Homo sapiens: one gene and its partners. The protein of the gene in region 1 interacts with the protein of each later gene in a pairwise test. Each region holds a gene or a part of one and is shown in the gene's direction. Other genes may lie near its edges.

Region 1 (7,294 bases):
TGCTTAGGCCTACAGTATATAGCTTTGGAGAAATGCCTCACTGTTAAGGTCAAAGCCCTGCATGATCTCACTCTATTCTCACCTCGTCTGCTGTCACTCACCTATCATTCACTCTACTTAAAGGCATGCTGACTTCCTTGCTTTTCCTCAAACACAACAGGCATAGCCCCAAGTTCCATCCATTGCACTGCCTACTCTCTGTGACACTACCCCCTTTGACCTTGAGCTTGTTTCTCCCTGGCTTTCAGTACTCTAATCTGTAGAATGCTTAGAGTAATAACACCTACCTGCTATGGTTCGAATGTTTCTCCCCTCCAAAACTCATGTTGAAACTAAATCTCTTTTTTAACAGAATTAAGGAGGTGGGAAATCTGACTACGGTATTTGAGAGATGGGACCTTGAGCGGTAATTAGGATTAGATTAGATGAGGTCATAAGGGTGGGGCATTAGTGGTTTTCTAAGAGGAGAAACAGATCTGAGCTAGCAAGGTCAGCACCCTTACCATGTGATGCCCTGCTCTGCCTCGCCACTCCACAGAGAGGCCCCACCAGCAGAAGGCCCTCACCAGATGTGACTCCTTGACCATGGACTTCCCAGCCTCCAGAACTGTAAGAAATAAATTTCTTTTCTTTCTTTTTTTTTTTTGGTGGGGGGGGGGTGTTGTTGTTGTTGTTGTTTTTAGAGACAGGGTCTCACTCTGTCACCCAGACTAGAGTGTAGTGGCATGATCACAGCTCACTGCAGCCTCAAACTTCTGAGCATAAGCAATCCTCCTGCCTCAGCCTCCTAAGTAGCTAGTACTACAGGCATACTGCCATGCTCAGCTAATTTTTAAATTTTTTTGTAGAGACAGGGTCTTGCTATGTTGCTGAGGCTGTTTTGAACTGGCCTCAAAGCAATCCTCCCACCTCAGCCTCTCAAATTTCTTTATAAATTACCCAGTCTTGGGTATTTGATTATAGCAACAGAAAAATGGACTAAGATACTACCTCATAGGGTTTTTATGCAGATTATAAGAATTAATTTATGTAGACTGCCTAGCATATACTTTATATTTGTTGAATGGAAGAATGAATAAACAAAAAAGAAAGTTCTCCCCAGGACTATGGCAAGGACCTCCTTTTTGATCTCCTTGCTTCCAGTATCTTTCCATCCAAAGCTCTCCCCAGGACCAAGACAGAGGCATCTGACCACATCATACCCCTGTCTAAACCTTTGCCCCAGTGTCCTTAGGATCGATTCCAAACTCCAGGCTAATGGTTTGCACATCCCACCCTATGATAAATGAAAAGCAGGCTCTTACTCCTTGTTTCCATCAGAAAATCCAGCAGTGCTATAAGTGATTTTGACTCTAAACACATGGGGCAAGAGAGACATGCCAATAATCCTTTTCTGGCTTTCAGAGAAAATCCCCATTATTTATACCTTCTAAAAATAGAGATATCTATTTAATGTTAATACCAAGGCAACATGTTGTCTTAAAAGACACCAAAATAGAATTGCAGACTTACCTAAAAAGTTAACCTTGAGGGTTGCGTCCATATGACACGGACACAATAGTTGGAGTGCTAGTATCTTACAAGACTCCTTTGTTGGAAATAACATTTGTTTTTGTTTTTTGTTTACTTTTTTTTTTTGAGACGGAGTCTCGCTCTGTTGCCCAGGTTGGAGTGCAGGCTGGAGTGCAGTGGCGGCTCACTGCAAGCTCCGCCTCCCAGGTTCACACCATTCTCCTGCCTCAGCCTCCCGAGTAGCTGGGACTACAGGCGCCCGCCACCACGCCTGGCTAATTATTTTGTATTTTTGGTAGAGACGGGGTTTCACCGTGTTAGCCAGGATGGTCTCCATCTCCTGACCTCGTAATCCGCCCGCCTCGGCCTCCTAAAGTGCTGGGATTACAGGCGTGAGCCACTGTGCCCGGCCAGAAATAACATTTGTAAGTGCAGCCTGTATTTTGTCCAAACCGCACGGATGTTGTGCAATTAAGTGGGAAGACTGCCTTTTTGCATTTTGCCACATATAAAGTTTCTCAGAAGAGTCTAAGATATATTCAATAATTCAGCCAATATCTAGTAGACATACACCATTTAAGAACAGGACCAACCTTAACATGTTATGAAGATTAGGTAAGACAAAAGCAAAGTTTTGTGGGCTTTTTTTTTTTTTTAATCAGGTTCTCACTCTGTCACCCAGGCTGGAGTGTAGTGGCGTGATCACAACTCCATTGCAGCCTGGACCTCCCAGGCTCAAGTAATCCTCCCACCTCAGCCTCCCGAATAGCTAGGAGCACAGGTGCGCACCATCAGACCCAGCTAATTTTTTTTTTTTAATTTTGTAGGGACAGGGTCTTCCTATGTTGCCCAGGCTGGTCTCAAACTCCCCGGCTCAAGCGATCTTCCCACTTCGGCCTCCCAAAGTGCTGGGATTACAAGTGTGAGCCACTGTGCCTGACTCAGTTTATTTTTTAAAATTTTTCTTCATTTATTCTTGGCTTCTTCCATTCATTGTTTTGATCACTAACTATGTGCTCAGCACATTGCTGAGCCTTTTGCATGCTCTGCTGGGCATTCCCCATTTGCTCTTCCGGATCCATTATCCACCCTGCTCTGGGACCCCAAAAAGCTGATCTTTTATAGATGGTATCATTTGGGCCCCATTGATTGGTTCGTAGTTGAGCCTGGCCACTTCTCTTTCAACTGGTCCCTGGCAGTCAGTACCAACATTTTAGTCAGGTTTCAAAGAAATCTCTAGACCAAGCTGGACAGAGGGCTTTTCCAGTGATTCAGTGATTCCCCAAGATCTGAGAATGTGAAACTTGGAAAAGGGACACAAAGACCGGGGATCCTTTGAGCTGGTTCAATAATGGCAGAGCTTTAGAGATATGCTGCTGAGCTCCCTGGGTCTGTCTCGCTTTCTGCCTTCTGAAGGCTTGATTGTTAACTTCTTCCTGGGTTTCAATTAGAAGCATTAGTGTCCTTCCTGGAGTTGAATTACCTGGAAATTTGCCTCCTAGATGTGTAAACTTGGGAAAGTATGATCTCGTCAAGTTTCAGACAAAGGCAAACTAAAAAGCTAGAACTCCAGAGAGCATAATAGTGTTTTTTGGGGGCAAATTATTTAATGAAGTATAACATTCATACAGGAAGTACAAAAATCATCAGTGTACAAAATCTCCATGAATTTTCACAATGTGTAAACCATTTTCCTGTTTTATCTGACCTTACTAAGTCAGGGTATAAATTATTAATTTTTTTTGAAACAGGGCCTTGCTCTGTGGTGCAGGTTAGGGCAGTGGTGTGATCACCGCTCACTGCAGCCTTGACTTCCTGGGCTCAGCCATCCTGCCGCTTCAGCCTCCCGAGTAGCTGGGACTGCAGGTGTGCGCCACCACGTCCAGCTAATTGTTTAATTTTTTGTTAGAGACGGGGTCTCGCTGTGTTGCCCAGGCTGGTCTAGAACTCCTGGGCTCAAGCGATCAGCCCGCCTCGGCCTCCCAAAGTGCTGAGATTATAAGGCGTGAGCCACTGCACCCTGCTGAGTATATTTTTAAAAACACTTTACCCGAGGGCTGTGGCTCACACCTGTAATCCCAACACTTTGAGAGGCCGAGACGGGTGGATCACTTGAGGTCAGGAGTTCGAGACTAGCCTGGGCAACACAGCTAAACCCTGTTTATACAAGATATACAAAAATTGGCTGGGCGTGGTAGCACGCGCCTGTAGTCCCAGCTCTTGGGAGGCTGAGGCAGGAGGATCGCTTGATCATAGCTCACTTTGAGGCTACAGTGAGCTGTGATCGCGCCATTGCACTCCAACCTGGATGACAGAGCGAGACCCTGCCTAAAAAAATAAAAAAAAAAAGGATTTTTTTCTGTTCAGTGGATTCATTTGAAGCGAGGGCCACTGGTATTTGAAATAGATGACATCATCTGCCAGCAGAGGCGTGAGGCAACTTGAGGCGGGGTGTGGGCCTGACGTCATCACGCAGCCTCTTCCTTTCCCCGCCCCCTTCTCTTGGCGAACGAGGCGTCAGTTTAACACCTCCGTGAATCCGGAAGTATGCTGTCAAAACAACCAAACCACGGGGCTGGGGGAGGCGGGGCCTCAGTAGGCGTCTGCACGCTAGCTGAAATAGAGCAAAATGCCCGACTTTTGGGGGCGGGGCTCCTGGCAACAGCACTCTAGGCGCAGGCGCAGAGGCGACCTCCAGGCAGGGCCAGGTGGGAGGGACGGTGGGGGGTAGGGTCGCGCGGCGCCCTCTGCGCCTGCGCCCCGGCACGAGGTGGGGCGGCGGGCGTCAGTACAGTAGAGTGTGCGCCGGGGTGGGGGGCAACGGTCAGCCGTCACCCTGAGACGGGCGGCGGCGGGATGGCAACAGCCTCCGGGGCCTCGGACTTGTCTGGCTCCGGAGCGCCCCCGCCCGGTGTGGGAGCTCAGGCGGCGGCGGCCGCTGAGGAGGAGGAGCGAGAGGTGGTGCGGGTCCGAGTCAAGGTGAGGCTGGCGGTGAGTCGGCCCAGCCGCCGAGGCATCCCAGGGGAGGGGGAGGCGGTGGCTGTCATAGGATGGAGGGCGGGACCTGAGATTTCGGACATAACCTGAGCGGCGAAGCTTGAGGGCCAAGTGATGATGGCGAGGGGTAGGGAGGGCCTGAGAGCCTGAGAGCGTTAGCGACGTACCTTGGGGCGTGGGACTGAAAATAGAGGGACGAGGCGGGGGTCTATGGGATGAATGGGTGGAGCTTATAGACAAAGGGGAGGGGCTATGGGGCTGGAGGAGGGGCCGCAGTAGTTGAGGGTGGGGCTCTGAGGAATGAGAAGGTGCTGGCTCTGGAGTCAGTCAACCCATGTGTTGAGAGTGCACTTATGTGCAAGTTCCCACTTTGATGAGCTGACAGGCTCGTGGGTGGAGACAACTAAAGAAATGAGATGCTTCGGACACTAAAATAATGAAAAAGGTTATGAAATAGGGAGTCACGTTAGCCAAGGTTGTACAGGGAAATCCCCAGAGGAGGTATTGAAGGAGCAGAGACCCGAATAAAAGGAGTCAGCCATGTGCATATTAGAAGGGAAGAGTATTCTAGGCAGAAGGAATAGCAAGGGCAAAGACTAGAGGATGGGAATGAGCCTGGCATGTTCCCGTAGGTTCCTGATTGCTGGAGTGGAGAGAATGAGGGGAAGAGTGGTAGGAGGTGAATCAGAGCGCTAAGACAGAGACAGATCGCCAAGGGCCTTTGGTGTGTATGCTGAGGAAGAACGCTGTTGCCATAGTTCCAGTAAACAATGATGGTGGCTCCGACCAACCAGTGGCACTGGCAGTGATAAGAGGGTCCACACATCACTTCAGTGTAATAGAGCTCTAAGGTAGAAGTTTGACATTCAGAAAAAAGATGATGCCTGAGCTGGGCGTGAACCACGTGAAGAAAGTGGGAGGGATGTTCCAGACAGGGGATCAGCACAATCAATGGCCTGGAGTCAGGATGGTTTCAAGGTAACTTCTAACAGTTTGGTACTACTAGAGTGTAAAGTTCAAAAAACCTGGTGAGAGGCTGGCTGGGGCCCCATAGGCCCGCTTGCTGGGACTCTAGGGTTGCCATTGAAGAGATTGAAGCAGGGGAGTGTTGTAGGTAGATGTGTTAGATTGGTTACAGCACCATAGAGGACTGATTTAACAGGAGCCAGACTGGACACGGTGATTCTGGCAACCATAGTTGAAGGGATATAGAAGAAGGATTGGGGGCCTGAACTCTTGCAGTAGCCTCCTCCTCACTGGACCCTGTGGTCCAGAACACCTGCCTTGATCTGGCCCCTGGCACCTCTCTGACTTTGCCTTCTACCACTCTGCACCTCACTCTTCAGCATGGTGATGGGGCCCCTGGTGGCCTACCCCATGTCTTCTCTCCCCAGAAATGTGAGAGCTTCTTGCCGCCAGAGTTCCGCTCTTTTGCTGTAGATCCCCAGATCACCTCGCTCGACGTGTTGCAGCACATCCTCATCCGAGCCTTTGATTTGAGTGGGTGAGTGGGAAGATGCTGGGGACTGGCCAGTGGGCCACCGACCTCTACAGTGGCTATCTGGCCTTTGTTTGGTAGGGTTTTTGTTTATTTTACTACTACAAATAATCCCACAGTGAACAGCCACGTATGCATGTCTTGGAGCACAGTAGTCTACTTTTGTCTGTGGTTTTGCTTTCTGCAGTTTCAGTTACCCATGGTCAACCTCAGTCTGCAAATATTACATACAATAAGATATTTTGAGAGAGAGAGAGAGACCACATTCATATTACTTTTATTACAGTTTACAGACAGTCCCCAACTTACAATAACTGGACTTAGGATTTTTCAACTTTACAATGGTGCAAAAGCGATACGCATTTGGTAGAAACTGTACTGCAAGTGCCCAGCGATTCTGCTTTTCACTTTCAGTACAGTGTTCAATAAATTACATGAAATATTCAACACTGTTGTAAAACAGACTCTGTGTTAGATGATTTTCCCAACTGTAGGCTAATGTGAGCGTTCTGAGCACGTTTAAGGTAGGCTAGGCTAACCTGTGATGTTTGGTAGGATAAATGTGTTAAATGCATTTTCCTTTTTATTTCTTTTTTTTTTTTTTTTTGAGATGGAGTCTAACTGTCACCCAGGCTGCAGTGCAGTGACATCTCCCAGGTTCAAGTGATTCTCCTGTCACAGCCTCCCAAGTAGCTGGGACTACAGGCATGCACCACTATGCCCGGATAATTTTTTTTTTTTTTTTTTTTGAGACGGAGTTTTGCTCTTGTCCCCCGGGCTGCAGTGCAGTGGCGCAGTCTCAGCTCACTGCAACCTCCGCTTCCCGGGTTCAAGTGATTCTCCTGCCTCAGCCTCCCAAGTAGCTGGGATTACAGGCACGCACCACCACGCCTGCTAATTTTTGTATTTTTATTAGAGACAAGGTTTCACCATGTTGGTCAGGCTAGTCTCGAACACCTGACCTCAAGTTACCTGTCCACCTCGGCCTCCCAAAGTGCTAGGATTACAGGTGTAAGCCCCCGCACCCAGTCCCAGATAGTTTTTTGATCTTCTCTTTTTTTTTTTTTTGGAGACAGAGTCTCACTCTGTCACTTAGGTTGGAGTGCAGTGGTCCGATGTTGGCTCATTGCAGCCTTTGCCTCCCGGGTTCAAGTGATTCTCATGCCTCAGCCTCCAGAGTAGCTGGGATTACAGGTGTGCACCACCACACTCAGCTAATTTTCATGAGGTTGGTCAGGCTGGTCTCAAACTCCTGATCTCAAGTGATCCGCCCACCTCGGCCTCCCA
Region 2 (6,186 bases), on another chromosome or scaffold:
GTTGTAGTATTGTGGCGTTTTGTGTCTGCCTTCTTTCATTTAGCACAGTGTTTTCAAGGTTCATCCACATTGTAGCATGAATCAGTACTTCATTCCTTTTTATGGCCAAATAATATTCTACTAATTGAATATCTCAAATTTTGTTTTTTATTGACTGAACATTTCTGTAGTTTGCACTTGTTGGCTGTTGTGAATAATGCTGTTTGTAATGCTAATTAGCATGTGCGTACATCCTTTGTTCTTAATCTTAGGGGAAAGGCTTTCAGCCTTCATCTTCGAATATGATGTTAGATGTAGTTTTTCTTAGATGCCATTCTTTAGATCAGGTTGAGGAGTTCCCTTCTATTTCGACTTGAGTGTTTTTATCATGAAATGTTGGATTTTGTCAAATGCTTTTTCTATGTCTATTGATGATCATGAGGGCTTGTTTATTAATATAATGTATTACATCGATTGTTCTTTATTAATATGTTATTAATATCTTTGTTCTTTATTAATATGTATTACGTCGATTGACTTTCATATGTTGAATGTTATGATATTCTATAGAGCATATATAATGTTATTTTACTGCTTTGGTTTTATATAATATGAACCAATTTCTCTATATTTCAGGCATTTATTAATACAGCAAAAGAAATTTATGAAAAAATTCAAGAAGGAGTCTTTGACATTAATAATGAGGTATATACATATAAATATTGTTGGTCAATATTAATTTAGAGTTCACTTTTGATTACTATTTTATATTTTTTATTTTATAATTCATTATTTTATAATTTTTTTAATTCCTAAAATCAATCATGATAATCAGTTAACACCATTAGTTTACAGTCATCCAACTGAAAAATTGGTATATGTGGTATAGTAGTTAAATATTTATGTTCTAGTAGAGCAACACTTTGTCTATGGAAATGGATTAAAGTAAGTGGCCCTATCCATTCATTGCAAGCAATGCAAAATAATATAAATCCCCCAAAGAGAAAAGAAAATCCACTTTTATCCACATGACCATATGGTGTCATCTGCTTTGGGAATAATGTTCTGGTATATAAATGCATGTACTATGTACTAATGCAAGATGCTCTCTCTGTTATCTGGCAGGAAAGAGGGAAATACCAAATTTGGAAATTACTCCCAATATAGCATAGCATGTTTTCAGGAGACTAAATTCATATATATATATATAAAATTGGCATTTGGCATAGGGTTTTTTGTAATGTTATTTTGATCCTGTTTTGGTCAACATGATTAGGATAAAATGTAAAGCTTTGAAGCATCTAATTCAGAGTGTTCACCAAAGATCATCACTTGACCCACATCCCCACTCTGCATTTATCTGTATTTATTTCAAAATGTTTATGTGGATGTAGCCTACTTATTCTTACATAAATATTTTTGCCATTCTGTATTAAGATTTCTGGCTTCTGAAAGAAAAGCCCTGGTTTCTCCCCAGTTGCAGTTAGAAAAGCATTGTGTTAGGAAGCCATTATGTATGTCTCTCTCATCCTATACATAAATGAGGCTCTCTATTACTTCAGTAGTCTCTGCTCAGACAAACAGCAGTTTACCTAAGGTTTCCAAAAAGTACATGATTTTTTCATTGTTTAATTTGGAGTAATATAGTTTCTAAATCCTATCTTCTAGGCTTATATGACGGTACTTCTTGAGTTAGTTTAAAGGTGACACCATTCAGAGACTAATGCCATATAAATTGAACAGTAATTGGGCCTCTATCTAAAAGGGCACATTCATTGTTTCTGTCTGGTTTCATATAGTAGCTGACTGCTTTACTGTGCCTTATGCAGCTTTGATTGTAATGTGCTGTTGGGAGCCAACAGGCCGTGCTATTTATTTGGCCTAATGCCAAGTCTGACTCCTTGACTCCTCAAGAAGTTGCTACCAGCCCAGAGGGGGCAAAATCAATGAGCCATAGGGCATGCTTTTTATTAAAGAGGAGTCAAAAGAGCGAAAAGAAACCACATCAGCTGCTGTCAATACTGAGCTAGTGCCAGAAACCCCAAGGCTACTACTGTTGCAGAACAACTGCCAAGCACTATAAATCTGAGATTTACTGTGACGTAAAGTTTCCTTAAGAGCTTAATTTCTGAAGCTACTGTATTACTTTTCTCAAAGTGTTGTATTTTTAGGTAAAATCCACTTGAGGGAGTGAGGGTTAAGACATAAGTGTGAGTTTGATGAATGAAAGAACTACTCTGTGTGTGGGTTCTTGGCAAGCTGCCATGTCTTTGGGGATCATAGAAATTATTGATGACACAGAACACTCATATGCCCTTAGCCTGTACAGCTGATTCAACATGGAACAGAAACACTGTCTAGAGAAAAGATTTTACGTTGTATTAAAGCAGCATGGGCTTTGGGTATTTTTATGCTTTAAAGATTACTTGCAATAATTATTTTAAATGATTTCTGCATTATGAGAATTTCCTGAAAAGCAGCATTATCCAATAACTGTTTACCCCGTACCTGGTATGATAAAGAATTATTTTCAGAAACATTTCCACAGTGTTTTTAAAAGGAAGGAACATCCCTTAGGAGATATTGTTTTAATTGTTGCTAAAATCTACTTGCTGTATTTTTCTCAGTTGTTTGATAAAATTGTATCATAAAGAATTAAATGAGTTTTTTAAGAATTAGTTAAACTATATTGTCTGGTCATATTTATTGTTCTGTTCTCTTTTATTTCAGGCAAATGGCATTAAAATTGGCCCTCAGCATGCTGCTACCAATGCAACACATGCAGGCAATCAGGGAGGACAGCAGGCTGGGGGCGGCTGCTGTTGAGTCTGTTTTTACTGTCTAGCTGCCCAACGGGGCCTACTCACTTATTCTTTCACCCCCTCTCCTCCTGCTCAGCTGAGACATGAAACTATTTGAAATGGCTTTATGTCACAGAAGACTTTAATCCGTCAAATTCTTGTATAACTTTGAATAAATGGTTAATGTTCACTTAAAAGACAGATTTTGGAGATTGTATTCATATCTATTTGCATTTGATTTCTAGGTCAATTGATGTGATTATTTTTGTTAAATGTTGTCTTGTGCCCTTAACTACGAACTGAATTGTATTAAACACTACAAAGTCATCTTGAGTATTTTAAATCGGTTTGTGTAGTTAGGTTTCCCAACATCTGTGGTTACCTAATGTTTAATATTATAGAACTGTCCTCAGAAACTTTGTCAATTTTCACGGCTATAAGGAAACAGAAGGACTCTTTTAATTCTGTATTTATCATTTACTTTCTGTATATATAGTTTAATAACCTGCTTGGGTGTAATTTGCCAAGCTTGAATTCTTTAATGCATTTGCATAAATTCTATACTGTTTAGAGCTTAAAGCTACAGAAGCATTGTTAGGAATTGCTTGGACACTGAATTTTAAACTTTTTGACATTGTTAACAAGCATGTTCATCTTTTCTTGTCACTAGTCCAAGAAAAATATGCTTAATGTATATTACAAAGGCTTTGTATATGTTAACCTGTTTTAATGCCAAAAGTTTGCTTTGTCCACAATTTCCTTAAGACCTCTTCAGAAAGGGATTTGTTTGCCTTAATGAATACTGTTGGGAAAAAACACAGTATAATGAGTGAAAAGGGCAGAAGCAAGAAATTTCTACATCTTAGCGACTCCAAGAAGAATGAGTATCCACATTTAGATGGCACATTATGAGGACTTTAATCTTTCCTTAAACACAATAATGTTTTCTTTTTTCTTTTATTCACATGATTTCTAAGTATATTTTTCATGCAGGACAGTTTTTCAACCTTGATGTACAGTGACTGTGTAAAATTTTTCTTTCAGTGGCAACCTCTATAATCTTTAAAATATGGTGAGCATCTTGTCTGTTTTGAAGGGGATATGACAATAAATCTATCAGATGGAAAATCCTGTTACAAAGTAGAAAAGCTTTAGTAATTTACTCAGTGTGGTGGTTTTATCCTTTTTTTCTTTTTCTCCCTTGGTCTATAATGAAATTGTTACAGCAGTGCAAAATAAAATCCTATGTATAAAAGTGTTCTTTTTTTTTATTATGACCACCTCTTTTTTAATGTATTTTTAGTCCACTTACAGCTTTTACATGGGTTTAAGCATGTTTTTTAAAAGGGTCAGAATGGTTAACACTCAACCCTTTTTAAAAATTTTGCTAAAATGCGACAAATCTCACCATACTGAAATTATTTTTGTTGATGGTGTAAGCAGTGTAAGCAAGTGTTTTCTCCTGAACTAGCACAAAAGCACTTATGCCTGAAAGAAAGCATAAAGAAGTTCTAACTCTGAAACTAACTACTTTCATTTCGCTCATGGCCTTCAACTTTCTACAGGTCTTCCCTGAAGATTCAGCAGTACTCTCTCAAAGGTTTGACAGTACTCTTGTGGGAAATCACCAAATGCTGTCATAGTTTTGTTTTAACTGTCTCCTTGAGGGCAGAGGGAAGGGTGAGAGAAAATCTGTTTTCATGGGTATTTGTAGTACAGCCTTTTTTTCTTTCAAGTGGCTGTATCAAATTCACTGGTCTTACTAATCACTGTCTTTACCAGTGAGTACAAAAAGTTAAGGCAACTAGGACAGGTACTGCTCTATACCAAGAAGAGAATGATTCTTTGGAAATTGTTATTTTTAAGCTTCTGTTAATTTTTCCAGAAGTTTAGTGCGTTTCTTTTCCATACTTTCTCCCCTAATTCTTTTATTTGAAGAAGAGAACTTAATGGCAAATAAACAACAAACCAGGACATGCATTTTAATACCCTAAGGAAAAATGGAACCCTCAAATATAACTCCTCCCACAACCACCCTAATGTGCCTCAGTCTGGGGCAGCAGGTGGACTTCTCAATAGTTCTTTTCCACATTCTCTACAAATCACATCTACCGTTAAGGAATATGTTATGAATCCTTTCTGTTAATTGAGAAAGCAATGTTATTGTCTGTGATTTCCAGTCTTTGCTCATTTTATTATCCCTGTCAAATAATGTAATATTGGTACCTGCAGTTGAATTTGTAATATTGTAATTGAATTTTTAGTTGATCTTCGATCAGTTTTTATAGCATCTATGGACATAGAAAATCAGTCACTGAAAAAAATAAACACAGCTTTCAATGTCTCACTCAACATGTAACATTCAAAATTGTGATCTTCATAAAGACATTGTTACCATTCGTCTTGCAAATTTAAGACAACTGAATGAAAAGCCAATTTTTTGAAAGAATGTGGCATATAATTAGATATACAACTGAAACAGGATATACAACTGCATACAATTTGTTTTTAATGATATTTTAAAATAGCCTGTTAGCAGGAAAATAGTCCCTATTTATCTGCTAATGGTCAAAAAGAGTTAGGATATAAATCGTACCAAAATGTTTCCAATCACTCAGAAAAACTGATTCATGTCTGGCTTTGCAACACCTTAAACATTTATTCTGTCATAGATAGTAAAGCCCCATCTCAGTTTATTTAGTCCTGAGGTTGGCAGCATGGGGTTTGACTATATGAGCTAAAAGATACACAAAGAGATAACGCTGTTTCATAATAAACAGGAATTGACTATACAAATAGGTAAACCAGCATATCTACCTGTATTTCTCAGAGTTTAGATGTGTGCTTTATGTTTACATTAAAATAAAGCCTAACGCCACAGTAGATCATCTCATACTGCATTCGGATGTACTAGGTATTATTATTTTTTGGTTGAAGTCACGACAGAGAACTTCATTTTATTTATTTTGTTTATTTTGGGAGACAGGTCTCACTCTAATCCCCCAGGCTGGAGTGCAGTGGCGCCGTCTTGGCTCACTGTGACCTCCACCTCCCCAGGTTCAAGTGATTCTCATGCCTCAGCCTCCCAAGTAGCTGGGATTAGAGGTCCCTGCCACCACGCCCGGCTACTTTGTATTTTTAGTAGAGACGGGGTTTTGCCATGTTGGCCAGGCTGGTCTCAGACTCCTGACCTTAGGTCATCTGCCCACCTCAGCCTCCCAAAGTGCTGGGGTTACAGGTGTGAGCCACCATGCCTGGCCAAAAACTAAGTGCCAGTCTATATATTAGTATTAATTAGTTTTACAAAATTATGAGGCCAATTCTTAAACATTGAAGGACAAAGCACCAAACTCCTGATAGAAAAATGGAGGAAAATGAGCAATTTACAAAAAACATACAAAGTGTC
Region 3 (7,028 bases), on another chromosome or scaffold:
CCTGGGCCGTACCCAGGGAATTCCTAAGGGGCAAAAGGAGGGATGTGAAAACCTCTGCAGCCCCTTCGGAAGTTTCTTGTGAATATATGCACAGATAAACAGATGTGCATTTTAAAAATAAAAATGCTTTTAGATCTAATGCTAGGAGATTCAAACCAACAATTAATTTCTCTGTTAAAATGGGTTAAAATAGATGTAAAATATTAATATGTATATAAGCATTCTGAATTAGACTTATGTGAATTTTTCTCCTTTTCTTTCTTTCTTTTTGAGAATAAGCCCTTTCATTTACGTAGAAATGCTTCAGCGTTTAGATAATTGCTACTTATCTTGTTAGCTACAAACACAACCATAATTAAAGGCTCTGTAAGAATTATGAATTCTGGGGAAATTGGCCACTTGTCTCTGTGGCGTAAACAGTATCTAATTTATAACAAATCATCTGCCTTAGTCCCAGCAGGATAAGGTGATATGTATTGCCCAGCACATGAGAAAGATGGCAATTAGGAATTGTTACCAAGTTACGGGAGCCTCACACGAACATCCATCACCTTTGGGGATATGTACAAGATACAAACTTAATTTGATGGATTCCTTTTGTATTGGGATCAAAGTCTCAAAAGGGAAAGTGACAATTTCAGGGAAAATCTGGTGCAATGAGACCAACACTGATGAGAGAAATGCACACAATTTAATACACCTGCTCACCTGATGTGGCAACTCAGCCTGTGCTTGCTGTGGGTTGCCACAGGATGAGACATGGTCTGTGCATATTCCCAGCAGCCACCCATCTCATCACTATTCTTGCCAGCCCAGATTTACAGTTGTTCAATAGATGGATTTGGTAATATCTGCATGACAACAACAGGCAGAGAAGGTTAGATGGCAATTGATTCTTGATTGGTGTAAGTTTATAGAACACATTCTGGCAGGGCCCAAAGGAAATCACTCACCTACCCCTCTGTGATGGTAAAACGTTGAAAATTCCACGGACTTGGACCTTGTGATCCTTCAGTGGAAGATGGGCAGATTCCTTGCTTTAATTGACAGACACTTTCTAAATAACTAATGCAATCTTATATTACATTATAGTCCATAAGGGAGACATACTTAAACTACTACTTACAACAACTGTTTTTAGAGCCTTTCAAATGGTTTGTACAAAGTAGCTCCCATTTAAGATATTTTCCTAGTATTTAAGGCTATCTAGTAGACATTACAAAACAATACGCTGTAAATACATTCAGATTTTTATCAGTAATACTTAACATGCCGTAATTTGAACTTTCTGCTAAATCATGCTATCCATTCCTAGTTGGCCCCAATGGTGAGAGTTTACTGTTTCTTTAAATAATTTTGTTTCCCTTTGCTGTCTAGAGGTGTTTATCATTCTGCTTACTTGCCTGTGTCTCTGGAATATTCAGAAGGTTCCATGGGAAACAATTTGAATATGCAAAGAAGTTATTTTTAAAGCAAGGAAAATGTTTTCATATGGATTTATTTTGAGCACTTCTGCCTTTGCCTCCACTGGGAACATGTTTCTCTCCAACGCCGAAGCCCCCTCCCTGTGTGGTGTTTGACGCAGAGGCTGACAGGGCAGGGAAGTGGGGTTCAAGATAGGAAGGCCATTGGCAGTGTGACCCCAGCCCACAGTCCTAGATCCCAGGTCGTGACACCACTCTTTTGACAGCCCAGATTGTTACCTAACAAGAATGACTCCCAAGCTCAACCATTCCAATGCCATCTCCTCTGGTTCCAGATAAGATTGAAGATGAGCTGGAGATGACCATGGTTTGCCATCGGCCCGAGGGACTGGAGCAGCTCGAGGCCCAGACCAACTTCACCAAGAGGGAGCTGCAGGTCCTTTATCGAGGCTTCAAAAATGTAAGACCCGTGCACGCTCTGAAGGCCTGGGGGGGGTTCCCACGTGAGGCTACACTCTCCCCAATGCCAAGGGAGCTCATAAGGCGTTTCCCATATGTGAGGCTGTACAAGGAAGGCCAGCTCTATAAAGGGGGCATGAGAGGGAGATCACCTGGCTAGAAAGGAAGGCTCCAGGCGAGGATGGAGCAACCTCAGGAGACAGTAAACGGCCAACTGCCCAGAAATTTCACAGGGTGGCACATCCTCAAGGAATTCACCCTGGCCCAGGGTCAAGCCTTAGCCCTTAACATAATCATACCTTCCAACCTGGTGGTGCCCCCACAATAATGGGATTTGGCCCTGCTGACTTATGCTAACCAGGCTCACCGAGACTGATGTGTAAGCCGAATGTCGGTGTATTAATTTACCTTGGGAAATGGAACTGACAGTGGAAACAGACACTCCTCTCCCTTCGCTGGGACCCGCTCTCCTTGGAAGCCACATGGAAGCCAGGTTACAATCAAAAGTGGAGTCAGAGGACGGGAGTTCCTTGTTTAGTTGTTACTTTAAATACATTAATGTGTTCCTGCAGTCTCAGGCCAGTTTGAGAGCTCTCAGATACAATCCTGGATATTAATTTATTTTTTAAGTTTAACTCTCAGAGTGCAATCTTATTCCCAAATCCTGGAGTGGTGTGGAGTGGGGTGGGCTACAGCGACATGCACCTGGTCACCCTCCCTCCAGGTGCAGTCTGTAGGTAGAGCTGAGCTGGGTCAGTTCCAAACTGACCACAGCCTCAATGTTCTCCAAACTGCTGACCCACAGGGATTCCAGCCCCTCCTGGGAGTTATCTGACAGGTGCTGGGATGCCTCTTCCTTCCACACTAGCCTTGACTGCACATGCCAAGTGCCCAGTTTCCTACCATTAGGGCTTCTTTCCTTCGATGGCAGCATTAGCAGTGGGCAGCCGAGTTGGAGAAGGATCCTGTGGGAAAGTTTTCCAGGCAGGCACTGGGCTCAGAGGGAACAGCATCCAGAAAAGAGAAGAAATCTACACTGCTTGGCATCTACCATGGACTCAATACCACCTAACATAGGTTCATAAGATACCCTTGGGGAAGTTATTGTTACCCCCATTTTACAGGTAAGGATATTGAGGATCAGAGACTGGCTTGGCCAAAGTCACAAAGCTTAGTATTGGCTGAGCCAGGATTTAAACCCAGGTTTTTCTGATCTTAAAGCCCCAAATCTCTCCACCTCACAGTGCCCATTCTCTGACAATGTCTCATCATTTTGCAAAGCAGCTCCAGTCCTGAGATGGCACTACTTGGGAGAAGTGGAAATGCACAGGTCCCTGTCCCTGGGGATCATGAGGAACCCCAGACACCAAGGCTGGGCCCAGTCTTCTCCTAGTGCTGGCCCTCAAATGCCTCCCGCTGACTCTCTCCCCTTCCCACAGGAGTGCCCCAGTGGTGTGGTCAACGAAGACACATTCAAGCAGATCTATGCTCAGTTTTTCCCTCATGGAGGTGAGTCTGACCTTGAAATCTATCTTGCCCAGCTCCCTCTCTGGTAAGCAGCCTTCCCTTCCTCCAAGTCCTCTCTTCCTTGCCATTTGCTTCCTTCTCGAGGAAGAGACAAACTCAGGGCAGGACACCTCCCTCATCGTGAGAGGTGGGAGTCTCCAAAGCTTTAGCAGGAAAGAACTCTGAAAATGAACCCACCCTGGAAGGGGAAGAAGGGCTGATAATGCAACATCACAACGTCTCAGAACAGCTCTAGAAAGCAGGTATTATAATCCCAGATGGAGTAACTGAGTTTCGGGGAAGATAAGCAGTGTACTCAAGATTGCACAGCTGGTGAGTAGCAAACCAGGATTAGATTCCATAAGGGTCTGAAACAGGTTTTGCCATGCTGGCACCACCATTGTGCAGGGCACTTTTGAATCTTTTCCTTAAAATAGCTGAGACAAGCTGGAATTTTGTAAAAGAACTTCAGTAAATACCGAAGACTATAAAAATAAACTAATTGAAAAAGAGGCAGGAAACATAAAGTTGTGCTTATTAAGCCAGTTTACAAGTGTGCCAGGCCCACAACAGCTGCTCTGTTGCCCTGCCCGACTCCTGTGGGAACCAGCTGTGTCCCCATGGGCCTGGGACCACATCGGTGACTCCTCCTGTGGCCTCCATGTGTCACATGCCACTTTGCATCCTGTCACCAAGAGCTGTCTCCTGCAAGACATCTTCCCTGGATCCTGACAAAATGCAAATCCAAGTATTCCAAACACTTCTTGGGCCCTGTTTCTCATGGGCCTTTTTGGCAGCAGACAGATGCCTTCCTTGGTGTGTGGGGCCCCTACCCAGATCAGGTGGGGGAGGCAGTTTTGTCCCATGCAGGCCCCAGAATTGCAGTTTGCTGAGTTCCACTGAGCCACTGTTTATTGAGTTCTCACTGTATGCCAGGCACAGCTGTAGTTTAAAATACTTTTTAAAAAATTTCAAGAGATAGGTCTTGCTACATCCCATTGTAGAGAGGTAGGAAAGGGAAGCTCAGAGAGGTCGTGCTTGATGCCCACAGTCACATAGCTTATGTAGTACAGCGGCATCCAAGTTCAGGTCTCTCTACTCTGGAGTGAGTGCTCATCCCAGGCATTCATGGCCGTTCAGAAGAACATTGTCATGCAGTCACTGTGCCATTCATACACCAACGACTCCATGCATAGACAGGCAGGAGAATGGTTTTCTCATGATGGCTAGAGGGAGGGGCAAGGGCTCATCTCACTTTTTGCTAGATCTAACTTCACACCCAAACCCAAAGAGTTGAGTCAATGGGCCCCACTCCATAATTTTCTCCTTTCCATCACCCTAGCATCACTCTCCTCTCTTTCTTGTCGAAGCCCTGCCTTGTTTGGAAGGTTCTCCCTGTGTGGAATTCCTGCCCCCATCACCTGCCCTCCTTTTCTGCCTTGTAGATGCCAGCACGTATGCCCATTACCTCTTCAATGCCTTCGACACCACTCAGACAGGCTCCGTGAAGTTCGAGGTACGCTCATCTGGGGTCCACTCTAGGGGTCCTCTGGTTCTGCATCACCTCCCCCTCTAAATCTCAAGGCATTGGGGGAAGGTCTGGACCATCAAAAGCTCTCAGTCAGACCAAAGACATGTTTATCCATTTGTAAGCATTTCCTAAAGATGGGGAAAAGCAGCAGCAACTTTCCCTGGCCTGCAGGAACTCAGGGACTCAGGGGACTAATAACAACAGTGTATGAGCTTCCGGGCACACTGCTTCCCAGTGGCAGCCCCTGTACTTAGGGCTTTGTATGTATTAATTCATTTACTCCAATTCCCACAATAACCCTATAGGGTAGGGTTTTATTATTGATTACCTTTTTACAGAAGAGGAGAGTAAGGCAAAGAGAGATAGAGTAGTTTTCCCAAGGTCAAAGAGCACATAAATGATAAAGGATGGATTTGAATGTAGGCAGAATGACCCTCAATACAGACTGTTCCTACAGTCCACGTCCTCAGCCACTAGACCATACGGCCACTGGGATGATAGACAGACCACTGCAGCCATGGATAAGGCAAAAACAGGGCTGGCTGTGTTGATCTGTGTCTCTCAGAGCTCCATTCTTCCTCAAGGGGGCACCTTGCAAAAAAAAACAAAAAAATGGGGCAGGGTAGGGAACTGAAGGCAGGAGCTCTTCACAGAGCATAGCCACATCCTCCAGGCAGACAAGAGGACGCAGGAGGCACCATTCTGTGAGAGTATCACAGTCTGACCCAAAGACACAGCTTCACACTGTCTGATGGCTTGATGGTTAATGTCACTCTGCCTTTTCCCCTTCTCAGGACTTTGTAACCGCTCTGTCGATTTTATTGAGAGGAACTGTCCACGAGAAACTAAGGTGGACATTTAATTTGTATGACATCAACAAGGACGGATACATAAACAAAGAGGTAAGTGAGCTGGGGCCAGGGGTGTGAGAGGGCTCCAGTGAAGGTAACTAACCCAACAGAAAACAGCCCCAGGCATGAGGATAGCACTGTCTGAATGAGGCAGGCTCTGCTTTGGGGCTAACAGAGCTGGTCCCTGGCAAAATAAAGAAGGCCTCCCTCATTGCCCTACCCTGCCCTGTTCCCAAGCGCCCAGAAAGGATTAAACAGATTCATTCTCACTGGGTCACCTAGATTCAGTAGATATTACACAGTGGATAAAAATGACTTGTTTCAGTGTGAAGAGTTACTCTTCCCTAGGGAACCTGCATTTGGGAAGGTTAGGAGCCACAAGTCAAAGCTAAAAGTTGAAATGGTGGAATTGTAGGCAGCACCTAGAATAGAAAAGAAAGATTTTTAAGGAAGAGGAACCTACAATTGGGTCATATTGGCCTTAAACTATTTTGCCTATTAATACAACCGCCAAGGGGGTAATGGAAGGTACAGCTGTCTTTACAGAAATTATCACAAATAATTTCTGAATCTTCACTGCTTTGCACTTTTAGAACCTCAGAGGACATGTCTCTAGCCAGTGAAATACCCTCAGGTCTATCTCAAAACTCACTTTGGTATCCACTGTATCCTGGTATCTCAGTGGAAGCTGGAAATTGGCATCCTGTAACACTCCACTTGCTGAGCTCCTGTGTGCCAGGCACGGTGCCTGGAGGTATAGATATCAGCACCAATCTTCACCTCAACCCGGCAAGCTTCTCTCTGTAAGCTCAGAGAGTTTATCCAACTTTCATTCCTCATTCATTTAGTCATGTTTTTAATTAACACAGATTTGAAGGCTTATTAGGTGTTCTAGGTGCTGGAGGTAAAGAGGTGAACAATCAGACTAGGCCCCACACTGGAGCAGCATAGAGAGATGGACAATAAACAGGCCAAAAAGGAATCAGCAGGTAGAAGATATTTTGGCAGGGAAGGTTAGCAAAGGCCTCTCCAAGGAGGTGTCGTCATACTGGAACCAGTTATACAAAAAGCCAGGAAAAGTGTTCCAGGCAGAAGGAACAGCCACTAGAGAGGCTTTGAGGCAAGATAGAGCTTCATGTGTTTCAAAAACAGAAAGGCTTCAGATGGCTGCAGATGAAGGTATGAAGCTGAAGACTAGTGCAGGATGAGCCTGACAGGTCAGCAGAGTCAGATGGTGGAGGGCTAGGGTAAGGGGCC
Region 4 (7,028 bases), on another chromosome or scaffold:
GGGTTTTTTTTTTTTTGGTTTTGGTTTTGGTTTTTTTTTTTGATTTGGAGTCTTGCTCTGTCATTCAGGCTGGAGTGCAGTGGCACGATCTTGGCTCACTGCAACGTCTGCCTCCCAGGTTCAAGCGATTCTCCTGCCTCAGCCTCCTGAGTAGCTGGGATTACAGGCACCCGCCACCACGCCTGGCTAATTTTTGTACTTCTAGTGGAGACTGGGTTTCACCATGTTGGCCAGGCTGGTCTCAAACCCTGACCTCATGATCCGCCGGCCTTGGCCACCCAAAGTGCTGGGATTACAGGCGTGAGCCACTGCGCCCAACCGAAAAGCAGGTTTTTAAAAACATGGTTGAATTAATCTATAGGAGAAGTTACCGAACTCTTGTTCCTGAACTTGAGGTTGTTGAATAGTAACGAAGAAATGCTTCTGCAGAGACTGGGCCGTGTGGGGAGAGAGAACATGGAGAAACTGAAGGAGAGTGAAGCCAGGGCTTCTGAACAGGTCCGCAGCCTCCTAAAGCTCATCGTGGAGCTTGAGAAAAAGTGTGGGGAAGGCACCTTGGCATTGCTCAAGGTAAGATGCTGGGAAAAAGAAAATAAAATTCATTCCAGTATTTGAGAAATGAGAAGTGGACAGTACTCATTAGGGGTTGCTGTCAGAACACAATATCCAATGATCTTCAACCACAAAAGAAGGCTACATGACTTTCTTTCAGCTGCCAAAAGCTTTAGGAATGGTCATAGCTTTGTGGGATAGTGTGGAGCTGCTTCATGAGATGAATTCTCACCTTAAAATTATCAGCAGTAAGTTAGGGTTGAGATGTGACACAATGTGGTTAATACCTCCATGCAATGAAATATTCTGTGATCATAAAGAATAAAACAGCTCTATAGGCACTAACAGTATTTCAAGCACTCATTAAGTGAAAAAGAAAGATGCAGACTGCTTTTTGTTTGATCTTTGGATAATAAGTATATATACACACACATATACATGTGTGGTTGCTAACATTCACAGACTTTCTGGCAAAAAATTAATAAATGTATAGTCATCTGTGATAATCTTGAAACAAGGGTGAGATTATCTGCTATGATCTGAATGTTTGTGTCCCTCCAAAATATATATGTTGAAATCCTCTCCCCCAAGGCGATGGTATTGGGAGGTGGGGCCTTTGGGTAGTGAGTGGGGCCTGGGGGCAGAGCCCCTGTGAATGGGATTAGGGCTCTTATAAAAGAGGCCGAGGAAGACCTCACCCCTTCAGCTTGTGAGGCTGGAGATGGAGGCTACCTAGGAGGGATGGAGCCCTCACCGGACACTGAATCTGCCAGTGCCTTGATCTTGAAATTCGGCCTCCAGAACTGCGAGAAATGAATTTCTGCTGTGCAGAAGCTACTCAGTCTATGGTAAGTATTGCATATTTTGAATTTTGTATAGTAACATACGTTGCCTTTCAGAAAGTGGGTTACCTTTTTTTTTTTTTTTTTCCCCGAGACGGAGTCTCGCTCTATCTCCCAGGCTGGAGCAGTGGCGCAATTTCGGCTCACTGTAACCTCCGCCTCCCCAGTTCAAGCGATTCTCCTGCCTCAGCCTCCTGAGTAGTTGGGATTACAGGCGCCCACCACCATGTCCAGCTAATTTTTGTATTTTTAGTAGAAACGGGGTTTCACCATGTTGGTCAGTCTGGTCTTAAACTCCCGACCTCAGGTTATACGCCCACCTTGGCCTCCCAAAGTGCTGGGATTACAGGCATGAGCCACCGCGCCTGGCCTTACTATCTTTTTAAGACTGTCCATATCCCTCTCCTGGGCTTATAATTGCAATGAATGCGCTCATCTGGAAAGCGTCTGTAGGTAAATCCTTAGGAAGCAGCTCAGTTCTTGAGCATGCAGGCAGGTGTGGCTCTGCCTGGCTCCCACTGCCCTCCCAGCCAGTGGCCCCTTCACCTGCTGAACTCTGGCCACCCCCTGCATGGAAAGCAGATAGATGCTCCCGTCTGAAGACTGAGAAATGATGGCTCTGAGTAAGATGCCTGGGGTGAGGGATAGAAAACCTTTCCCTTGGGACTACGACAAAATGATTTCATGCATTTTTCTGACTTTTTCTGTTTCCATGTTAGAATTTGTTCATCTGATAACTAGCATTATGAGGTTGAAGAAATGACATGGAAATTGAGTTCATTGTAAGAGGATATTTTCCTGGGCACAGATTGCAAAAACAGCTCAAAAACCCAGTAGTAACCTGGTCTCTTTTCTTTCCCTTAGAATGCAAAATACTCTTTAGAAAGGTGAGTTTTCATTTTGGATACAATTGGGTGAGAATCAGAGTCCAGTAAGATGTTGATTGAGATAGGGAGATTGCATTTGCTGGTAGGATGTAATGGGATCCATCCAGTAGACTAAGGGGCCTGTGGTCTGTGCAGATGACTGAGGCTGTCCTTTCTCTTCAGGAGCAAGTCACTGCTGCTTGAGCATCTGGAGCCCGCTCATATCACAGACCTGAGTTTATGCCACATAAGAGGACTCAGCAGCATGTTCAGAGTACTCCAGAGTAAGTTGACACATGTGAATACTCACAGGGCACTGTTCTGCATTTGAGAATCAGGTGACCATCCTGCCATAAATGAAAACAAATTCCAGTAGTTTAACAATTTTAGGCCAGCACAGTGGGTCACTCCTGTAATCCCAGCACTTTGGGAGGCCAAGGCGGGCGGTTTGCTTGAGGCCAGGAGTTCGAGACCAGCCTAACCAACATGGTGAAATCCCATCTCTACAAAAAATACGAAAATTAGCCAGTTGTGGTGGCGTGTGCCTGTAGTCCCTGCTACTTGAGTGGCTGAGGTGGGAGAATTGCTTGAACCCAGGAGGTGGAGATTGCAGTGAGCTGAGATCACACCACTGCACCCCAGCCTGGGCAACAGAATGAGACTCTGTCTTAAAATAAATAAATAAAAATTTTAGGAGACTGGAGAGCTTAATATGTTATACATATTAGATAAGGATCAAAAAAATAACTGTATGATCTCATATGAAAGCTCTTCCCATGCAAAATCTTTTTTTTTTTTTTTTTTTTTTTTTTTTTTGAGACAGAGTTTCACTTTGCCCAGGCTGGAGTGCAGTGGTGCGATCTTGGCTCACTGCAACCTCCCCCTCCTGGGTTCAAGTGATTCTCCTGCCTCGGCCTCCCAAGTAGCTGGGATTACAGGCATGCACCACCACACCTGGCTAATTTTTTGTATAGTAGAGATGAGGTCTTACCATGTTGGTCAGGATGGTCTTGAACTCCTGATCTCAGGTGATCCACGCGCCTTGGGCTCCCAAAGTGCTGGGATTATAGGCGTGAGCCACCACGCCTGGCTAATTTTTTGTATTTATGGTAGAGACGAGGTCTTACCATGTTGGTCAGGCTGGTCTTGAACTCCTGATCTCAGGTGATCCACGCGCCTCAGGCTCCCAAAGTGCTGGGATTACAGGCGTGAGCCACCACGCCTGGCTGCAGATTCTTTACCAGTTCCCCAGCCATGAAACATGATTGCAGGCAGATTCCACTGCTTAAAAATTTAAAACTTCTGGGGAAGAAATTCAGCATGTATAACAAAGGGTTTATATCTCCTGTCCTTATAGCTTTGCCTTTCCCAGAATGTCCTATCGATGGAATCCTACAGTGTGTGGCCTTTCGAGGCTGACAGCATACTGCAGTTGACATATAGAACGTCCAGGCTGCTTCGTGTATCAGTAGTTTGTTCCTTTTTATTGTTGATAATATTCCATTGTATAAATATACCATAATTTACTTATCCTTTTGCAATTCTACGGACATGGGTTGTTTCCAGCTCTGTGCTGTAAATATTAGCAGCAGATTTTTGTGTGGGCACAGCTTCATAGTTCTTGATTGACTGTCTAAGGGTGGGATTGCCAAACTTGTTTTCCAAATTGCCTGTGCCATTTTGCCTTCCCACCAATAACGTGCGAAAGATTCAGTTACTCTGTATTCTCACCAGGGTTTGGTATTGTCAGTTTGTTTTACTACATCCGACCCGATAGATGGGTAGTGGTATGTCATTTTAATTTGCATTTCCAGAATGACTAATGATGCTGAGCATATTTTCATGTGTTTGTTTTCCCTCTATCTCAACTTTGGTGAAATACATGTACAAACCCCTTTTCTAAATTGGGTTGTATGTCTCTTGAGTTTTATAATTTCTTTATATGTTCTGTTTAGCATTCATTTATCAGATAAATTTTGCAAATATTTCCTCCCAGCATGGTTTGTATTCTCATTTTCCTAATACTGTCTTTTGAAGTGTAGAGGTTTTGCATTTTGATGAAGTTCAATTTATCAAGTTTTTTCTTTTATGACTTCTGCTTTTTGTGTCTTATTTAAGAAATTTTGCCAAAGCCAACAAAGATTTCCTTCCAAAAGTTTTATGGTTTTCGGTTTTACATTGTGGCCTATGAACCACTGAGAGTTAATATCTGTATACAGTTCACAGAATGGTGCAAACCCTCTCCTCCCCCCACCTTCTATTTTTATTTTTTGACTCACATGTATCCATTTGTTCCAGTTTCATTTGTTAAAAACACTACCTTTGTCCATTCAATTTACTTGGCCCCTTTGTTGAAAATCAACTGGTATATGCGATCACGTCTATTTGTGACTCTAATAGGTCTATTGATGGTTGACTCTTTCCCTTTGCCAATAGCACACTGGCTTGATTGATAACTCTGTAGGAAGTCTTGAAAGCAGGTACTGTGCATTCTCCAAATTTATTCTTTTTCAGAATAGTTTTGGCTACTGTAGGTTGTTTGCTTTTCCACATAAATTTTGAAATCAGCTTGTTGGCTTCTTCAAAATGGACCGCTGGGATTTTTATTCATATTACATTGAATCCGTTGATCAGTTTGGGGAGAATTGACATCTTGACAATATTTGGTGCTTTCAGTCCAGGAATACAAAATATCTCCATTTATTTAGGTCTTCGATTTCTCTCATCAGTGTTTTGTCACTTTCAGCATAAAATGTTATATGTATTTGGAGATGTATCCCTAAGTATTTTATGTTTTTTACAGCCACTGTAAACGGTATTTTAAAATATCAATTTCTAATTGACATTTCATTCATTTCTAGTTCATTGCAAGTATATAGAAATGGAATTGTTTTATATATATTGACATTTGTACCCTATAACTATGCAAAACTCACTCATTAGACAGTGGATTTCTATAAATAGATCCTTCAGGATTTTCTACAAAGTCATGCAGTATATGAGTATAGATAGCTTTATTTCTGCCTTTCCAGTCTGTAAGCCTTTTCTGAATTTTTCTTGCCTTATTATACTGGCTCAGACCTGCAGTGTGTTGAACAGAAGTGGTGAGAGTGGACACTTGCTTATTCTCGATCTTAGGAAGAAAGAAAACATTAAGTCTTTTCACTCTAAATTCTGATACAGCTATAGCGCTTTTTGTTGTTGTTTTGTGTTTTTTGTTTTTGTTTTTGTTTTTGTTTTTGTTTTTGTTTTTTGAGATGCTGTCTGGCTCTGTCACCCAGGCTGGAGTGCAATGGCGAAGCCTCAGCTCACCGCAACCTCCTCCTCCCAGATTCAAACGATTCTCCTGCCTCAACCTCCCGAGTAGCTGAGTGCCACCACACTCAGCTAATTTTTGTATTTTTAGTAGATACGGGGTTTCACTCTGTTGGTCAGGCTGGTCTCGAACTCCCAACCTCGTGATCTGCCTGCCTCAGGTTCCCAAAGTGCTGGGATTAAAGGCGTGAGCCACCGCACCTGGCCCTAGCTATAGTTTTTTTTAATGGCTGCCTTTCATCAAATTGAGGATGTCCCCCTTTATTTCTGGTTTACTAAGAATTTTTATGAATCAATGTTGAATTTATCAAGTTCTTTTTCTCTTGAGATACTCCTGTTGTTTCTTCAACCTTTTTTGTTTTTGTTTTTGAGATGAGCCTCGCTCTGTTGCTCAGGCTGGAGGGCAGTGGCATGATCTCGGCTCACTGCAACCTCTGCCTCCCAGATGCAAGCGATGCTCCTGCCTCACCCTCCTGAGTAGCTGGGATTACAGGCCGCCACCAGGCCTGGCTGATTTTTGTAATTTTAGTAGAGATGGGGTTTCGCCAGGCTGGTCTCAAAGTCCTGGCCTCAAGTGATCCGTCCTCCTCGGCCTCCTAAAATGCTGGGATTACAAGCGTGAGCCACCGTGCCCAGCCACAGCTGTGCGTTTTTCCAGAGATAATTTGCATTTGTTTCTGCCAGTCTCCTGGAAATACTGAGAGTCTCAGACAATTTTTTAAAAATTCAAGACGTGTAGCTGTTGAGACCACCCTAATAATGTGAATTGGGCTTCAAATTCAGAGATTTAAGTTCATTAAATTTACTTCAGTCAAATAATAGAAATTAAGCTGGATTCCACATTACAGAAAGTAGGAAATAAAGGCCTTCCAGGTTTATGGCTTAGACAACTGAAGCAATGAGGGAGCTGTGAACTGAGAAGTAGAGACTGCAGAGGGCTGGCGTTGAAGTTCCATTTTGGGTGTGTTATGTTTGAAATTCCTGTGTTTTTTCCAACTGGTATTTAGCTGTTTATGGAGCGAGTCACAAACACAGAGAAGATGTTTAAAACTGAAGCTATGCACAGTTACCTGGGGGCAGTGAAGGAGAATATACTACTTGAAAGAAGAAGTCCCAGGACCAAGCCCTGAAAGATCACAATAGTTAGAGGCTGGGCAGAAAGAGATGAGAGGAACAGTCAGAGATAGGAAGAAGACGTATTCATGCAGGTGTGAGGAATTCATTGAGCCTGCGTGTTCTCAGCGTGAGTTTCTGGAGGGTCCACACAGGTGTTCCATCCTCCGCTGATAAATTATCTGATGTAATGCCTGATGTCCAGGGCCTGTTGTCAGCAATTTCCAGGCCTCTATGTCACCCTGTGGGGATATTTAAGATGTGTAGAGTACGGCATCGGGAGGGCCACGAATGAGTTGCTGCTGGCCGACTCCTGTGGCCGCTCCAGGCTTGGAGATCT

Evidence for each region.
Region 2: the proteins of TBC1D25 (region 1) and RAB2A interact in binary tests that used the Homo sapiens proteins (3 or more experiments, as listed by UniProt).
Region 3: the proteins of TBC1D25 (region 1) and KCNIP1 interact in binary tests that used the Homo sapiens proteins (3 or more experiments, as listed by UniProt).
Region 4: the proteins of TBC1D25 (region 1) and TRIML2 interact in binary tests that used the Homo sapiens proteins (3 or more experiments, as listed by UniProt).

What each region holds. Positions count from the first base shown.
Region 1 is NC_000023.11:48,535,430-48,542,723, forward strand, and holds the start of TBC1D25 (TBC1 domain family member 25), read left to right. Parts: upstream 1-4,284; 5' UTR 4,285-4,368; coding exon 4,369-4,491; coding exon of another isoform or gene 4,492-4,503; intron 4,504-5,855; coding exon of another isoform or gene 5,856-5,903; coding exon 5,904-6,013; exon of another isoform or gene 6,014-6,025; coding exon of another isoform or gene 6,026-6,084; intron 6,085-7,294. UniProt on the Homo sapiens protein: Acts as a GTPase-activating protein specific for RAB33B. Involved in the regulation of autophagosome maturation, the process in which autophagosomes fuse with endosomes and lysosomes.
Region 2 is NC_000008.11:60,617,965-60,624,150, forward strand, and holds the end of RAB2A (ras-related protein Rab-2A), read left to right. Parts: intron 1-615; coding exon 616-684; intron 685-2,709; coding exon 2,710-2,805; 3' UTR 2,806-5,680; downstream 5,681-6,186.
Region 3 is NC_000005.10:170,716,999-170,724,026, forward strand, and holds part of KCNIP1 (A-type potassium channel modulatory protein KCNIP1), read left to right. Parts: intron 1-1,759; coding exon 1,760-1,884; intron 1,885-3,322; coding exon 3,323-3,392; intron 3,393-4,759; coding exon of another isoform or gene 4,760-4,834; coding exon 4,835-4,905; intron 4,906-5,714; coding exon 5,715-5,822; intron 5,823-7,028. UniProt on the Homo sapiens protein: Regulatory subunit of Kv4/D (Shal)-type voltage-gated rapidly inactivating A-type potassium channels. Regulates channel density, inactivation kinetics and rate of recovery from inactivation in a calcium-dependent and isoform-specific manner.
Region 4 is NC_000004.12:188,092,577-188,099,604, reverse strand, and holds part of TRIML2 (probable E3 ubiquitin-protein ligase TRIML2), read left to right. Parts: intron 1-429; coding exon 430-570; intron 571-1,325; coding exon of another isoform or gene 1,326-1,400; intron 1,401-2,258; coding exon 2,259-2,281; intron 2,282-2,443; coding exon 2,444-2,544; intron 2,545-6,582; coding exon of another isoform or gene 6,583-6,623; exon of another isoform or gene 6,624-6,815; intron 6,816-7,028.